Linked DNA regions of Homo sapiens: region 2 is linked to region 1. The links come from fine-mapping of genetic effects on gene expression. A gene starts in region 1. The other region holds a variant in brackets. All regions are shown on one strand. Distances are between the middles of the regions. Region 1 holds the start of NRG1 (neuregulin 1). Region 2 overlaps NRG1 (neuregulin 1).

What was found. PIP is the estimated chance that this variant, and not a neighbour inherited with it, causes the effect.
Region 2: its variant is fine-mapped to the expression of NRG1 in whole blood (TOPMed, PIP 0.96).

What each region holds. Positions count from the first base shown.
Region 1 is chr8:32,543,320-32,552,364 of GRCh38, reverse strand. NRG1 (neuregulin 1) reads right to left here and starts at 4,054. Exons shown (of 12, transcript NM_013964.5): 1 at 3,539-4,054. The coding sequence starts at 3,638.
Region 2 is chr8:32,568,977-32,578,021 of GRCh38, reverse strand. All of the region lies in intron 1 of NRG1 (neuregulin 1), which reads right to left. Among named protein-coding and RNA genes, the nearest start is that of NRG1, 25 kb to the right of the region's middle. The variant A/C (reference allele first, on the strand shown) is at 4,090.

The sequences.
Region 1 (9,045 bases):
AGTGAATTTTTCCCAGGTTATTTAAGAGGAAAAAGAAAAAAGACAGAATTCCGTGCAGAGGTGCAGAGTAAGAACAACATATCGACAGAGAATCACAAAGGAAGCTTAGAGTCAAATACCAATTGGCCAAAAATTAAAAAAAAAAAAAAAAAAAGCGGCCAAGCGCCGTGGCTCATGCCCGTAATCCCAGCACTTTGGGAGGCCGAGGCATGTGGATTGCGAGGTCAAGAGATCGACACCATCCTGGCCAACATGGTGAAACCCTGTCTCTACTAAAAATACAAAAATTAGCTGGGCATGGTGGCGCACACCTGTAGTCCCAGCTACTCAAAAGTCTGAGGCAGGGGAATCACTTGAACCCAGGAGGCAGAGGTTGCAGTGAGCCGAGATTGCACCCACTGCACTCCAGCCTGGCGACAGAGCGAGACTCCGTCAAAAAAAAAAAAAAAAAAAAGCTCTGGTTTTGTAATTCAGGCTTCAAGAGAAAAAGTCTGTTGAGCTGAATCAGTATGAAGAGGCTGGATATGGGAGGTCCAGCACCAAGGAGACCCAGGCTGTTACAGGGCTCTTGGTACGTGGATCAGTGATACAGCACCCAAGACTATTCTTAGCTTGCTTATTTTGAGCAAAGAAAAGGAATCAATGACTCCAAGGGCTTGGGACCTATTAGAGCTATTATTATGGAATAGATAATTGTGTTGAACATCTGCAGCCCCAATAGTGTGCAATTCAACATTTAGTTAATTGTATAAAAGTGCAGATGCTCTGAAATAGCCATGTATGTATCGCATATCAGTCACTCATGCCATATGAAAGTTAAAGAAGCCTTTTCCCCCTGAAAATTTCCCTCCAACAGATGTGTTTATGCCTATGCGTACAATATAGCACACAGCGGGGCTGAGTGGCTGAGATCCCACCCCATTATCTCTCCCCTGACTGTCATGAGGCAATGTTAAAACAGCTGAAGAGAGGCTTGGCTATTGCATACATATCATCAAGGACAGACAGTTGCAGTGGCTGTTTTAAGAAAGGAGTGAAACTTGGAACTGACAGGCACTAAGATGGGAGCAATACAAGAGAAACTTGTCCTCCTAAGTCCTAATTTGGGCTGGCACGGCAAGTGTGAATACTAGAGTTATGGCATCTATAGGTCGTTCCTTTGGGAATGCCTGAAACCTAGAGTGTGGGTTTTTCTCACAAACCATTATAGTCATCAGGTATGAATTCTCCTAAGACAAGGAAAACTACACTGGCACTTACCATTATAAGGAAAATGACAAAGAAGGAAAGAAACACTGATTCTGAAGCATTGTATTTAATGCCATGTGCTTCTATATAAAGCTGGTTTCAAGTTGTTGACCATTCTTTCTGAATCAAATAAAGAATACATATTCTTATCTGGTTTAAAAAGCACAAGATGCTTCGAAGGGGGTAAAAAGTCCCTCCCCAAAAAAGATTATAATCTGGTGGAAAACAGAGACAAATATACTAAAAACTAACCTACAGCCAAATTCACCCCAATTTTTCAGGGAAGACAGTTAAGCAAATGTCACTTAAAGATACTGACTTAGCTGGTTTACAGGGAATCACTGCTGTACCACTGGAAAGCAGATGAGAGCCACCAAGGAAGCTCTGGTGCTCTGTGTCAAGAGAGCGTAGCTAATCACAAGACAGCTGCCTACCTAGTAGATGAGATCTGGAGGGCACAGAAATGCCTGCCCCTCCCCCACTGAACTTGTCAAGTTGCTGTGTTACGGTACTGCTGCTGGGAGCCCTTGACAAAATGCACACCTATTACCTGAACAGGATGCTACTTCAGACCGCTGGCCCCTTCTTAATTCATTAGACCATCTACAGAGGACCACAGAAACTTCTTCTGAAGCCAATGAGCAGGGAGACAGGAGAACACAACCACAAACAGTGATAAGAGCCCCCAAAATAACTCTTTACAACGATTTGAGCTAGGTCTGAAATCTCCGTAATGTACTATGATGACCTTAGAAAGGACAGTAGACAAAGTCACGCAGGGAGGTAACTAATCCAGCTCCCCAATTTCCTATCTTGTTGAATAAAGTGCTATGGTCTCTCCCCAAAATATAGGGTAAAAATAAGGGAAAATTCAATACACCCTCATGAGGGGCAATGATCAGTAATTGAAGTGAATATGATCAGCAGGATCTTATTAAAGAAGCAAGCACAAGAATGGCCAGTGGTGAAACAATTACTCTCTGTTCAATTTCTGTTTTGCTCAAAACTCTGCTGAAGGTCTCTGCCAATAACCCAGGTTCTGAAATGCTATCAGTGATACCAGTAAGAAGACCAAGCAAATGTGGTTTGTTTTCTTCCAGCAAGGGACAAATACTTCTACAGTATTACTGTAGCCACAGTATTATCAAGTACTAGTGAATTAATTCTGCAGAAGTGCTTCATGAAATGTGTGTTGGGGGTACGCTCGAAGCGACTTAAGGCATCTGGATCAATTAATAATTGGGAATTGCAGAGGCAAAAAATAAATTCTCCCCCATCTCCTTCCTCCCCTCTTTTATCAGCTACCTACCAATCACTCATAAACAAGTATTTATTCGACATGCCTCTTTTGTCCAAGGTAATGTCCAAAGCATCAGCGCTTCCTAGGGACATCTAAGGTAAAGCTTTTGTTCATGCTCGTGTTCTGATGATGAAATACAAGATTTGTTTCTAGAAAGCTTCAATTGCCATTTTATTATATAGATAACCAGCAAACAATTGGGTTCAAAAATTCAGATAAACGGTTGTTTTCTTACATCTCTTGGGAAAGTAAATTATCCATATTTATCACAGAGGTCTTGAAAAATAGAACTGTTAAGCCAAAAGTTTGTAGAACTTGTTTGGGGCAGAGCTGATTCCTGACACTGGACTAGATTTCATCTGCTTCGCTGACCTTTAGGAATCCCTGCCGCTGCTCTTGAGTCTCCGTAGCACAGGACTGAATCAAGATGAACCGGCGCGCACTCTACATCGCTTGCCCTGTGCCCCAAAACGCCGAAGCTAACTTCCCACGCGGCCTCTTGCTCGACCACCCACTTCTGCGCTGCCAGGCACACCGAGGGGACCGGCTCTCCCTCCAGGCGGCCCATTCCAGCGTTTCCCGCTAGAGGGCACACGGCCCCCGTGCAAAGCGCTTATGGCGCGGGGCACGCGCGCACGCAGCCTCGACTCCTATAGCCCAGGTCCCACTCCCGGGCTGGGCTCAGCCGCTAAGGCGCTGGGGAGGGGCCGTGCCAGGGAGCGAAGCGCTCCCGGGACTCTGGGAGGGTGCGGCCGGGACTGCTGTCCCTTGCCCTGAGCTCTGGGCGTAGGCGCCCGGTAGGACTCGGCGCCCAGGTGAGCGGCGGCCCCCAGGAGGGGAAGCACCGCGCGACTCAACGGGCGCTCAGAGCGCAGGGCGAAGAGGACGGGCGAGGGAGAGGGGGAGGGAGAGGCCACGGCATCCGAGGAGGAGGAGGAGTAGGAGGAGCAGGAGGAGGATCGTGGGGCCCGGGCCGCGCTGCGCACCCACCTGGGCTCTGGCTGCCCGCCGCGGACTCCGGCTTCTTGCCGGAGCCTCGCTCCTTCTTCTTGCCCTTCCCTTTGCCTCTGCCTTCTTTGCGCTCGGACATCTCGCCGGAGACGGAGCGCTCTACGCGGACGGCTCTCGGCGCAGGCGAGTTTGGTCCAAGGGCTCGGATCGGGTTTGGGAAAAGTTTGTCCCTCGAGGGGGAGAGCGAGCGGCCGCGCTGAGGCGCTCGCGCTGCGCGGGGGCGTCTCCCGTTGCCTGCAGGGAGCGCGGCGCGGACGCGGCGGGCGGTCCGGCCACCTGGAACGGGCGCTCGCCCTGGCTCTCGGGGCTGCTCCTGTCGCCCCGGGAAGTCGTCGATGGGTCCCACCGCTGGCGGCTCGCGTCCTGGCCTCTGCCCGGCGCCCTCGCAACCCGATCGGGGAGAGGTTATCACCGTCCTGCTCACGCTCCCATCGTCCGGCAGCCGCCGCCGCTCAGCTCCTGGCCTCCGCGCGAGCCCGGAGTTCCAACAAGTTTCGGGGAACTCCTCGCCGGCTCTTTTTCAATTGCCCCGCAGCCACCCACCTCCCGCCCGCAGGTTGGAGGCAGGCGCCTCCTTCGCACCCTCCCCTGGCCTCGCCCCCTCCCTCTTCCCCACCACACCCCCACCCCGAGGCGCGGACACGCCACCGGGAGGAGCCTGGGCTCGGCGCTCCCGGGCGCAGCCCCTTTTCCTCCCGCGCTGGCCGGGCGGGGGGTGGCGGCGCGGCTGCCGGGAACCCCCGACAGGGGTCGCTGGACGCTGCGCGGAGACCGAGGCCAGCGCCCCGGAGACCCGGGAACCCAGGCGGAGACCCGAGGCTCTCGCTGCCCGCTCCCCTCCGCAGCCAGGCAGCGCCTGGGAGGGCTGCTCCGTCCCATTCCACGCGGAAAAGGACGGCGCAGAGAAAAGTTTGCGACTCCCACACCTGTGCCCCAAGCAGAGTCTCCGTGGTCAGGAACCCTGGGAGGGGTGCGGGGGGAACGTTGGTGGCTTTCCCAGAAGAGTTCGGGGTTCATTCCTTAACTCACTTAAGTACAAAAGCCCTGTCGCACGCAGGCGAAAATAAACTCTAGGTGGAAGGGAGTTTAAGATAAGGCTTCCTTCCAGGTGCACAGGAAGGGCTAAGCGAACCTTAAAGATGCTAGGTTGCGCTCTCCTGCTGGGTCTGCGCCGTGTGCGTGTGTGTGTGTGTGTGTGTGTGTGTGTGTGTGTGTTTAGTAAGTGCCTGTTAGAAATCTTCAGCTTTTCCTTAAAAAATAACCTGGCCTCTTCTAAGGGGGTGCCCTTAAACTACGTCTCTTACTACAACTTAATTTTCAGAGGAACTGATAAAAAACATAGTTCGGAGCACGACTCAGAATAATTAAAATTACTGCAGCCGCTGAAAGTCACTCAGTTCTGCCGAGTGGAAAAGCAGGCAGGGAGGGGTAGAATAAAGACACAGAACTGGAGATCCTTAATTCGTGAATGTGGGGTTTCTCAGATTCAAACTTTACTCAGAACTGCGCGTGAAACCTACTCCTTCCCTTGTCCTCCCTCTGGTGGAGAATTCTAAAGAGCAAGGAAATAAGAAGGCATTGACCCCTCCCCTGCAAAGGACAAAAGTTAAAGACCAGGGTAACGGGCACCACGGAAGGATCCAGAATTGTCTACATGTAGAGAAAACATTCTCAGAGTTATACCACAGCTGTGGTTAACTTAGACTCTTAATTTACAGTGAAATACTCTTGTGTTGTGGTCGGGAAGTGGTGAGTTGGAACAATCCATATTCAAAATCTATTGCTTCACTTTAAAAGTGACTTGCTCTTGGTTTTCCATTTTCTGGGGTCAATGCTAACTGAACCATTACCTACACACTACCTTCTCACGGTATTTTCTGATGGCCGCAATTTAAATAAAAGTGCAGTCTGGAGTGTCTCCTTGATATGTAGATGGGAAGGGAGGGAGGGAAATATGTTCACTTTAAAACTGTCCTAAAATCACACTAATTTTATTCTAGTTTAATTTGCACTGTCATAAGAACGAAACTCTGTTGAATGGGTTTAACTGTGGAAAGATATCCTAGCAGTCTTGCCATCATTATTTATAGTTTAAAAGTTTGATGTCCAAGTAGCTTCTGATAGCCTTCCTACAAACACCAAATATAAATTTCACTGGGCTATAAAGACAGCAAAAGCAGAGAAAAGATGATGAATATATCTCAGTAGCACTATTAATATTCCACAGAGACGTATGCAAGATGGAGTCTGAACACTGGCTGAAATAACTCTGTTTTCCCAGGAGGGGGCCACTGCTCAGTAAGCAGGAAATAGCAAAATTCAGAGAAGTCCTTTCAAAACAGATATTTTGTCCCAAGGATGTGAGACAGCATAAGGGCTTAGTATACACTACCACATATTCTCTAACATGGCATTATGTTAGAATTGAAGGACTGAAAGCAAAGATGTATTCTGGGATTCTTTTTTAAAAAATAAGATTTTCCCCAATTAAAAAAAAGAAGCTCAAAATCCATTTCTATGGAAATGTTGTAATTCTGCTACTTTTGTTTAGGGTCTGGATGTTTTGCTTCAACAAAACAGCTTACTGGTCATTTTTAGAGTAATTTTTCAGTGAGATAGGGGAAGAGCCTACGATTTTGTGATACATTTTCATTTGAATGAACCTGAAGAGGTAGTTGACAGTCTTCCAAAATTAAGCATACATGACTACAAAAGAGATTACAGATACTATGGTGGCTTTAAGATAAAACGTAAAAGCAGGATTCCTACAGGAATTTTAGGGCTGAGGAATGAATGAATATGAAGGGAGGGAGGTGAGTATAAATGAGCATTTAATAATTGTTTTTCCTTGGTTTGATGTGATGGAGGGGAAAAGACAGGACAAAAATTGCAATGATAAATATTGAAGGGACTTTAAGGAAAGATGATGAAATGGCAATTGCATGACAACAATCCTTTCTGGAACCATATCCAGATTCTCGAGTTACATTTTAGTTATCACTTGTAGCTGAATTCTCAGGAAATTCAAGGCTCAGTCCAAAAAGGTTTTTTTCTAAAAATCGTTAGGTCTTTATGTTATTTAATGTTAATTTTAAGGGGTTTTATTACATTATTTATGGCCAGCTAAAAGATTAACCAAATAAATGTCCATTTCTTGGACAGTTAAAACATTTATGAGATTTATCAAGAATTTGATATTGTCCTTAAATTATTCATCTCTGTGGTCAGGAGTAGCAAATGAATTTCTTTTGCATTTGTAAAAAACCTTGGAACTGACCAGAACAAGGGATGGAGAAAAGAGGAAGAATATTTTTGCTTTAAAAAAAAAACCCAATTGTATAATTTAGAAATGATGACATATCTTAATGGTTTAATTTTATTAATTTGTGTATTGTTCAGGTCTTAGATCATGTATTATATAGGGTATATCAGCTCCCAGGTAAATTGTCAACATAACTCCTGATAAAAAGAGTACAGATTTTAAAAAATAAACACCTTGGGCATTAAAGAAATGCAAAATTTAGATCTCACATTAAATGACAGCGTAAGAGAAACGCAATCGTGTGCCACTACATTTTTCCTTGGCTAGACTTAACTTTTAGAAGGACTCTTAGAATCTACAAAGCTGGCTGAATATATCCTCTCAGTAAATCCCATTTGGGAAATACTCCAAGAAAAGTTTTAAAACATGGAAAAATTAAAGAAGACTAACAAGACAAATTGCATTTTTGGCAAAATATTATGCATGTTGACAGTAATGGGACTTTAGAATTCTGCAAATAGTCACTTTTAACTTTTTTAAATCAAGTAACTTAAGATAATGTAAACAAAGATTACTTTTTTAAAAACTGCAACAAAGTTGACATTAATGAAGATGCATGAATGCAAAGAAAATCTCACTCAGCAGAGTCAACTTCAAAACAACCACTAAATGTATATGATTCATTCATTCACCAAGCATTTACTGAACTAAGTGATAGACAGGCCGGGCATGGTGGCTCATGCCTGTAATTCTTACACTTTCAGAGGCTGAGATGAGTGGATTGCTTGAGCCCAGGAGTTCAAGACCAGCCTGGGCAACATGAGGAAATCCTGTCTCTACAAAAAAAAAAAAAAAAAAAAAAAAGATACAAAAATTAGCCAGGTGTAGTGGTGCTCCCCTGTAGTCCCAGCTACTGGGAGGTTGAGGTGGGAGGATCACCTGAGCCCTGGGAGGTTGAGGCTGCAGTAAGCCATAAATGTGCCACTGCACTCCAGCCTGGGTGACAGTGAGACCCTGTCTCATAACAATAAATAAATAAATAAATAAATAAATAAATAAATAAATAAATAATAAGCTAGGCAGTAGAGAAACAAATAAAATACTGTCTCTGATCTCATGAACCTAAAATATTGTGAGAAAGGCATAAAAACAAATTAAATATGACAATACAATATGAAAAACAAGGCCAGATGAGTTTTCTGGAAATGAAGCTCATAAAATTTGGGGGATCTTTTAAAAGAAAAATACTGCAAAATTAAACTTACAAATTTAGGTAATAAGAAATTAAATAGGCTCTTGCAAGTCAGAGTCCCTGAAGAGTAAGCTTCCTTAGCTTATGGTAAATTCACTTTTAGTGATTCCAAGCATATTCCAACATCTGCACCATAATTACAGCAATGGTACTTGACAATTGTATACTATTTTGGAGATTAAATAATACTGTTACATAATATCACTATAAATAGGAGACATTAACAAGCAATCAAAAGGAATACACACAAAACTGAGATAAGCAAAGACCATCCTATGAGGGAGGAAATTGAGGTGAAAGGAGGCTTAATAATTCACAGATTTGCGATTGTCCTGTGTGTTCAGTTAGACTCTTAGCATCAACATGCATGTTGAGTTTATTAGGCAAAGCACTTCTGACCAGCAAGACACTCTGGCAAAACTAGAAGTGGTACCCTCCATTTGGCAAATATTTAATAGAATTACTAATTAGTCATTGTCTGCTGTAAAGACAGTTTTATGATAAAATTATGAGCTTAGAATTCAAAGAAAAATGCTAAAAGGCAATGTTCAAACAACATTAAAATCAAATCTATGTTTATGTTTTTCTGCTTGTGTGACTTTTAAAAATTACTACATACTAATGATTACTATTATTTATCATTACTATTAATAAGATTACTGTCAGGATTGTAGTGTCATGACTGATATCATGGATTAAAATTGTTAATACTGCTAAATACTATTGCTGAATTTCTTCTTCTGGCCCTGATAAACAGGGCCAACGTCATACATTTCTTCTGTAATAAGGCAGATATATAAGACAATCATTTTTGAAAACATTTGAATTTCTTATAAGAAGAATACCATCCCACACAACTTTTCAGTTATTTTTTCTGACCTCTGCATTATTTATCCTCCTCAGTCCCCTGGCAATGCACCCTTAATTTAGATGTGTATATGATGCAAATATATATATACTTATATATGCATA
Region 2 (9,045 bases), 26 kb before region 1:
CTCCATCTCAAAAACAAACAAACAAGCAAACAAAAACCTCCATGAGCTAATAGGCCCATAGACCTGCCTTCCTTACTGCAAGTGGTGGCTGGTTTTCTTGCTTCCAGAACCACTTCATCTTCCTTTTATGTTAAACTATCTGGAAAAGCTGATGGCACAGATGAAGTTACAAAGACAGCTCCTCATTTTTGTAAGAAGTGCTATAATGATGGTACATAACAGTTTAAAAAAAAGAGAGAGATGGATAAAGAAGTTAATACTGATTTCTGCTAGAAGAAAATGTCCTCAAGAACCAAGGTCTCGAAAAACAAAAAAAAAAAGTGTTAAGGTTTAAGGGTACAACGATTTAACTAAGTTGTTGAGAATAAATGTTGTTAGAGCCATAACTATGCTAGTTTTTTATTAGGTTCATTGTTATTCTTGTTGGTGTTCAGTTTATAGTTTCGTAAGTTTTGAATTCTCTTCACCTAGCCCTACTTTTTCCAGAAGCCTCTTTATTTTGTGTGTCATTTTGCAAAATGAGTTTTGTTTTGTCTTGCTTTGTTTTTCCCAAAAAATGCAAGCATGGAGTTACAGCAGAAATGTCTGTGGCAGGACAGGGACCTGTCAGTGGTGTTGCAGACAACTTCCCCAGGCCAGAGGTTCCCAAACCTATAACTGTATACATAAGTCACTTGAGCAAGTTTACTAAAATGAATATGAAATATTCATGGAACCCATTGAAAGACTCTGATTCAGTAATTCAGAGAAAAGCCTAACAATATGCTCTTTTACATGGAATCAACCTAGGTGCCCATCAGTGGTGGACTGCATTGAGGAAATGTAGTATATACACACTGTGGAATATCATGTAGCCATAAAAAGGAATGAAACTGCATCCTGTGTAGCAACAGGGATGCAGCTGGAGGCCATTATCCTAAGCGAATTAATGCAGGAACAGAAAACCAAATACTCCATGCTCTCACTTATAAGTAGGAGCTAAACATCAAATACTCATAGACATAAAGATGGCAAAAACAGACACTGGGGACTACTAGAGCAGGGAGGGAAGGAGGGAACAGGAGTTGAAAAACCAACTATTGGGTACTATGCTCAGTATCTGGGTGATGGGATCATTCGTACCCTAAACCTCAGCACCACGCAATATCACTCATATGACAAACTTGCATACGTAGGTTGAATATAAAATATAAGTTGAAATTATTTTTTAAAATAATATAAATATAAATATAAAATATAAGTCGAAATTATTTTTTTAAAAAGAGAAAAATATAGGGAAAAAAGAATCTGCCTTTTAAACAAAAGCATCGCAGGCGATTCTCATACAGGTGGTTAGTATGGGCACAACTTTCTCATAAATATTACACTGTGCCAGGGGCAGCCCTCTCCAAAAGTTATATGGCATTTACAGAGTTAATGTCCACCCCATAAAGTCTTTCCAGTAAAAATGTTTTGTTTTGTTTTTTTAAGAAAAAATGTTTAAGATTTATTGCCCTGGGTAAATTATAGGGAATTGAGACTTAATTTCACTTCTGAAAAAATTCAGAATCTTGTAGAAAGAGACAAATGAAAATTATGGTTCAATTGGCATTGGGATAGTTATCTACAAGGCTCAAATTGTTAGCACTCATATTCAAAATAATAGCCAGGAGTCAATACAGGGTTTAAAAATTATTTTTTAAAAAACAAAAAAAGAAGAGAAAATGAGGGAAAGAGAATCAAATATTCCAAAAAGTTTCTCCTGAGCTAGACACCTCCTTCCATTTTTATGTGTCATGTGAGATGGACTATTCTCTAAGGGCTGAAAGTAATTTCATAATATTTAAACAACTGATTTAAAATAATTACATTATTTGAAAATTGCTAAGAGAGTAGATTTTAAATGTCCTCACCACAAACAAATGGTATGTGAGATGATGACACGTATGCTAAATAGCTTGCTTTAGCCATTCCACAGTGTATGCATATTTCAAAACATCACGTTGTATACCATAAATACATACAATTTTGTCAATTTAAAAATTAATTAAAAATAAATTTTAAAAAATAAAACACATATTAATCAGGAACACATTTATTTTGGAGAATTCCTATGAAGGTTGCTTGAAGATACTTTTTTCCTAAACTTTAGAGCTATGTAAGACAAAGAACCCATTTTAAATTTGTGCTTTCTATAAGACTAGCATATCTGGGTCCTCAGATTTAAATGACCAGATCTAAAAAATAACAGTTAAGAATTATAAAAGGTGTAAGAACTGCCATTCCCAGACCAAGTTTCACCCTTATTAGAACATTCAAGCCTTACATTGGTGTCACCATTTAATCTTTACAAGAATACTCTCTCAAAATTTCCTACTTTATACTTATTTTCTAGGTAACCATGAGCATTAAATGCCCACAGGGATATTATTATCTCCAGTGTAGATCTCTACTTTAAGATCCAGACTTTGTTAATGTTGCTTGTCTTAAAAAGTATAAATATCCATGCAGTTGAGCAGTCCTAAAATACAACTTTTCCTTTACTCATGCCCTATCTCCAGCCCACTACAAAGTTTAGTTAATTTTACTACCACCCACCCCCACTTTCCCATCCCCAACCCTTCCAGGAAGGGAACTTTTATAGTATTAGGCAATAAGCAGAGCCGATGAACTAGTAATTAGTCAACTATAAAGCAACCACAAAAGTAGGAAAGAAGAGAAAGAAGAAGTAGGCCAACCACAAGGCAATTGAACATGAAGTGAGCTAAAACATGCATCCTAGAAAAAGAGGAAGTAGCCAAGAATGACATATCATGAAGAATGGCAATGCCTATCATGAATGTCTATGCCAGAGGGGTATGTCCAACCAGTATGGACACTAAGACAAAGGTCAATTGTGAAACCTGGGGAAAAATCTGAAGCTGGAGTTAGAAGAAGAGGTATTCCTAGGGAGCAAGGAATGGGATTTATGATCTGCTGTTCAGCTTTATTCTATGTTTGGCTTTAGATTTGTCTAGGGTTTACTTCTGTTCCTGAGTCATCTGGAGTTCCCTGAAAGCAGAGAACTCCATGCTTTCAAGGTTGAAGCATAACTGATTCTCTCACAATCTGGCATTCTGAACAGGATTGAAGGTTCAGAAATTCTATGTACTAACATAGGAGAGTTAGGTGGCAAAGCTGTAGTGTAAACTCTATGAAACAAAGATTACACATTGTGTTAGGCCATTCTTGCATTGCTGTAAAAAATAACTGAGACTGGGTAATTTATCAAGAAAAGAGGTTTAACTGGCCCACAGTTCTACAGGCTTTACAAGAAGCCTGATGCTGGCATCTGCCAGGCTTCTGGTGAAGCCTCAGGGAGCTTTCAATCATGACGGAAGGCAAAGGAGTAGTGGGGGACATCACATGGTGAAAGCAGGAGCGAGCAAGCAAGAGAAAGAGAGAGAGACCACACACTTTAAAATGACCAGATCTTAGTCATTATCATGAGGACAGCACCAAGGAATGGTGCTAAACCATTCATGAGAAATCCACCCCCATGATCCAGTCACCTCCTACCAGACCCCACCCCCAATATTGGAGATTACAATTCAACATGAGATTTGGGTGGGGAAAAATATACAAACTATACCACACAGTGATCTGATCAAGCACTGAATTTGAGATTTCTTAGAATTATATATTTGGGTAAGTTTATTAAAAGCCTTTTGAAGACCTGATGAAATGAGAGAGGGAAATGAGGCCTGGAGAATGTAAAATTAGAGACATAATTACGGAATGTCTCACCCACTTGGAATTTGAATAATTGCATCTACCCAACCAGATTAGTAATGTATAAAATCTTCTATCCTGTTTAAATTTGAGAGGTTACAGCATTATGCTCCTAAGATCTTTAAAAGGTCATGCTGCTATAAAGACACACGCACATGTATGTTTATTGCAGCACTATTCACAATAGCAAAGACTTGGCACCAACCCAAATGTCCAACAATGATAGACTGGATTAAGAAAATGTGGCACATACACACCATGGAATACTATGCAGCCATAAAAAATGATGAGTTCATGTCCTTTGTAGGGACATGGATGAAGCTGGAAATCATCATTCTC[A/C]GCAAACTATCGCAAGGACAAAAAACCAAACACTGCATGTTCTCACTCATAGGTGGGAATTGAACAATGAGAACACATGGGCACAGGAAGGGGAATTTCACATACCGGGGACTGTTGTGGGGTGGGAGGAGCGGGGAGGGATAGCATTAGGAGATATACCTAATGCTAAATGACGAGTTAATGGGTGCAGCACACCAACACGGCACATGTATACATATGTAACAAACCTGCACATTGTGCACATGTACCCTAAAACTTAAAGTATAATAATAATAAAATAAAAAATAAAAATAAAAAGGCCTTTGATAAACTTACCCAAATACATAGTTCTAAGAAATCCTAACTCAGATTCCTAATGAAAAGACAGAACTGGCTGGAGAACATAAGCAACGCCAGGTAAAGAAAAATTGAATATTGCTACAGCAAATGGTAAGGATATATATTTTATGTCAGGATATTGGGATAATAGTATCTCTTCAAGGAATATTATAGAGCAGAGGTCAGCAAAATACGGCTCATAAGCCAAATCCTGCCTACCATCTGTTTTTGTAAATAAAGTTTTATTGGAGCACACTTGCATTCATTTGCTCATAAATTGTCTGTGGCTACTTTTGTGCTACAACTGCAGAGTTGGGTCTCTACAGAAATGTTTGCAGATCCCTGTTATCGAGTCAATAAGTCATCATGGAACATCTGTAGAATTTCATCTAGCAATAAGTATTGGCAGGTTTCATAAAGACAGACAGCAGAATGGGAATAATCCATGCAGGGTCTGCATTTTGAGGTCTATGAACAAACTGGATATACAGAGTAGAATATTCAGAATGTTATCTGAGAATGCTAAGGGAACTAGAACCCCATTCAGATAAGGAGAAGAAGCTAAGATATACTTACGATAAATGTTGCCATTACTCGGTTCAGGCAAAACATTGTTTGCAAGTGGGGATAGGATATACAGATTAGGAAAAATGGTGGCGAAATTAACCTCAAAGTCAGAAAATAAATATGTCGCAAATTTGTAGATTAATATATTATTTGATATTTATTTATTTGGTGTGTATAATTTTATTTGATGATGATTTCCTTCTTTGAAAAAATGAGATGACAGATTCACCCAAACTGTGACTTTGTAGAAACCCTTGGGTGAGGACAGTTATCAGACAGAGGAAATGAGGCCTGTAGAATGTAAAATTAGAGACATAATTATGGAATGTCTCAACCACTTGGAATCTGAATAATTGCATCTACCCAACAGAGGAAAATGCCTCTGTTGCTGTATTAGTAACATAAAATATTCTATCCTGTTTAAATTTGAGAGGTTATGGCATTATGGTCTTTATAACTATCAATGATTTTTAGCTACTGTATAATAAAGAAAGCTGAAATAAGATGTAATTGAAAGTTAGGATAGTACATTGCAGTTAAGACGACACTATGCTAGGATTAGAACTGTGACGGGATTATTATTCTTAGAGGAATGAAGTTTTGGCTTAATAAATCAAATGTGTATAGTAACAATAGAAGAAATTTTAAATGATATCTTAGAAAATTAATCCTGTACCTCACTTATGATATATTGATAACATTCTGTGCAATTTATTCCTATGAGGGCTCTAAGATCATTCACATTGCTTATAAAATTGTGCTGAGTTTTTCTGTGGGAATTAGCAGAAAGAAGCTAAGTATATAAATTTCAAAAATTAAGACATGGAGGAAAATAGATTTTGGAAAGACTTCAGGAGTGTGCCACTTATGTCGTAAGCATTTCTAAAATGTGTTGCAATTGTTTCTTTGAAAACAGGAAATGAGAATAATAAAAGTGGATGAGAAAAAAACACTTGTGGTAAAAAGTCAGAAGACAGGCAGATTTTAAAATGTGGGCAACTTAGGAATATAGAGAAGATAGGACATAAAAGTGAACATAAAAGGACAAAAAGCTAGCAATAAACTGTGTATAAAAATTACATGGGGTTTGGAATCAGTTTACGGATTGAGTTCCAGCTCAGTCTCTGACTATTTTTATGGCCATGTGTGTATATTTGTAACTTAAAATGAGCATATATGGTCACTGCCTGTATGTAATTATTTACTGAGTTGTCTTACCATGGGAATTTTTCTACCTATTCCTTTTGAGTAACTTTGAAAATTCTGCTTCTGTTGTACCTTAATTGCAAGTCACTCAATTTACTCCTATTGGTAGTAACAAGAAAAAGATGAAACAGAGTTTTGAAATAGACATGAAGCAAAAGTAATGGCAAGAGGAATGGAGGTGTTTGCAAATAAAGCTTGAAGAAAGATGTGAGTAAAAGGAAACCTAGGCCTTGAAAAAAACAAAACAAAACAAAAAACTAGCTTCTGCTGGCTGATACGAAGGCAAAAGAATCTAAAATTCGTACATGAAGGCTGAGCTGGGGAGGTGGGAAGAGACAGGACCCAAGCAGGAAGAAGACACAAGTCAAAATCCTGAAGCTAAAACCTGAACGTCAACACCTCCTCATGGGTGCTGTAAAACCACGATGGCATTGACTATTTGACTATAGGCCCAGACCTTTGATAAGAAAATGCTGTTGAAAATCTCCTTGTATGCACATTATTTATAAAAGAACAAGTGAATTTACAAGCATCCCAAGCTGCAAAGGAACTAAGATCCTAAAACATTTCTGGTGAGTAAGGAATGCTAAGCAGAAATTAGTAATAGGGCCCGGCATCCATTATTACTAGTTTCAAATGTAGATGTCATGTCATTGCTGTATCTTTAATTTGGAGCACTGTCTTTATTGTTTTATGTTACTGGCTATAAAAATATTTATGAAGACTATAACAAGTTCACTCCTAACTTCAATCCTCTTAACCCACCTTTCCCACCATAGGCTTTTCTAGGACCTAACCAGGCGCAGTTCATGTGGACATCTATATACATGTTGCCCATATATTCACACATAAACTATGCTCTTCTTTCATACATAATATGGAATAAGGAAGGCACTTTTTAGAAATTTGGCTCAGATTAACTTTCTGGGCATGACAAACTCAGTGCAAATTCATATCATTCACCTACACTCCTGTCTGTTACCAATACCCTATAATCATAATTCATATTAACATAATTATCTTAGTATTGATTACCTAAAATATCCATAATCATCAATAATTTGTATCAATACAAAATAATGTATGTGACACTTTATCTTAAAGAAAGGGTCCTTTCAAAACAAGAGTTGATAACAAGGACTTTCAGAAATTAGGACTTTCTGAAGCTGGGAAATACACTGAATGTATGTATTTACATACATTTGAAAATATTCTGATTTTTATTCATCTTAACAAGCTTAATGATAGAGTGGAGCAAACCACTTATTTAGAAATACCATTTAAATTTTTTCTGATGAACTTGATGAAGTTCAAGTAGTGGACAACACCAAAAAAAATATTTAAAAGCAGGCCCTTTCTTTTCTGAAGTTTTTATATATAAGTCAGAGTTTTATTTAAAAGTACTTCCTAGCATCTTTAGAATATAAGCTCTCCATGGATAAGAATCATGTCTGTTCTATTCTCTGTTTATTTCCAGAACCTAGCACAATGTACAGAATGTATTAGGTACTTAATAATTATGTGTTGAATAAATGAATGCACAAGCTTCCTATAAGACCTAAAATAAAAGGTTTTTAAAAAAGAAACAGCAGAACATGCATGTTATATAGAAAATATAAAGATAAATATCAGAGGCCAGGAGCAGTGGCTCACGCCTGTAATCCCAGCACTTTGGGAGGCCAAGGTGGGCGGATCACCTGAGGTCAGGAGTCCGAGACCAGCCTGGCCAACATGGTAAAAATCCCGTCTCTACTAAAAATACAAAAATTAGCCAGGCGTGATGGTGTGTGCCTGTAATCCCAGCTACTCAGGAGGCTGAGGCAGGAGAACTGGTTGAACCCAGGAGGCAGAGGTTGCAGTGAGCCAAGATCGCGCCACTGCACTCCAGCCTGGGAGACAGAGCAAGACTCCATCTCAAAAAAAAAAAAAAAAAAAAGATAACTATCAGAAAAAGAATTAACTAGAATTGTTGAGAGGGCTTGTTTTTAGGAAAGAAAACTAGAGATGAAAACGGATGGGAAAAGGAACTGATGCCCACCCCCAAGGTAAATGTTTTACTTGTGTATGATTGTTTTAAAAAACAATGAGCTCACAATAATTTAATAAAAATAAAATTTTATTTAAAAAATGGTGATTTCTATACAAGCCTGTATTTCTGATAAATTATGAAAGAAAGCCAGAAGCAAATAAACTGTAATATTAAAGTGCAGAAAAGAATAAATGAGAAAAGAAAGTACAAGTGCTTCCCTGGCAATAAAGACAGTTTTCATATAATTTTTTTCAGACAGATACCAAGTATAAGTCTACTATATAATCTTTTCTTTTTTAAAGGAGAAAATAGACAGAAAGTTAAACAAGTAAGAGTATAGCTTTCTACTGAGGCAATCCCAGATAAACTGAACTACAGTATCACTAAAGTGAACCATCAGAAATGTACGTATACATGCACACACAGTACGCACAGCACACACACTTCAAGAATCATCTTGGCCTGGCCAGGCACGGTGGCTCATGCCTGTAATCCCAGCACTTTGGGAGGCCAAGGTGGGCGGATCAGTTGAAGTCAAGAGCTCAAGACCAGCCTGGCCAACATGGCAAAACCCCTCTCTGCAAAAAATTCAAAAATTAGCCAGGTGTGGTGGTGTGCGCCTGTAATCTTAGCTACTTGGGAGCCTGAGGCAGGAGAATTGCTTGAATTTGGGAGGCAGAGGTTGCAATGAGTCAAAATCGTACCACTGCACTCCAGCCTGAGTGACAGAGCGAGATGCTGTCTCAAAAAACAAAAAACAAAACAACAAAAAATGATCTTGGCTGATTTCGGCCTTTCAATGTAACTTACTACTTCCACAGGGTAGTCTGAAAAAC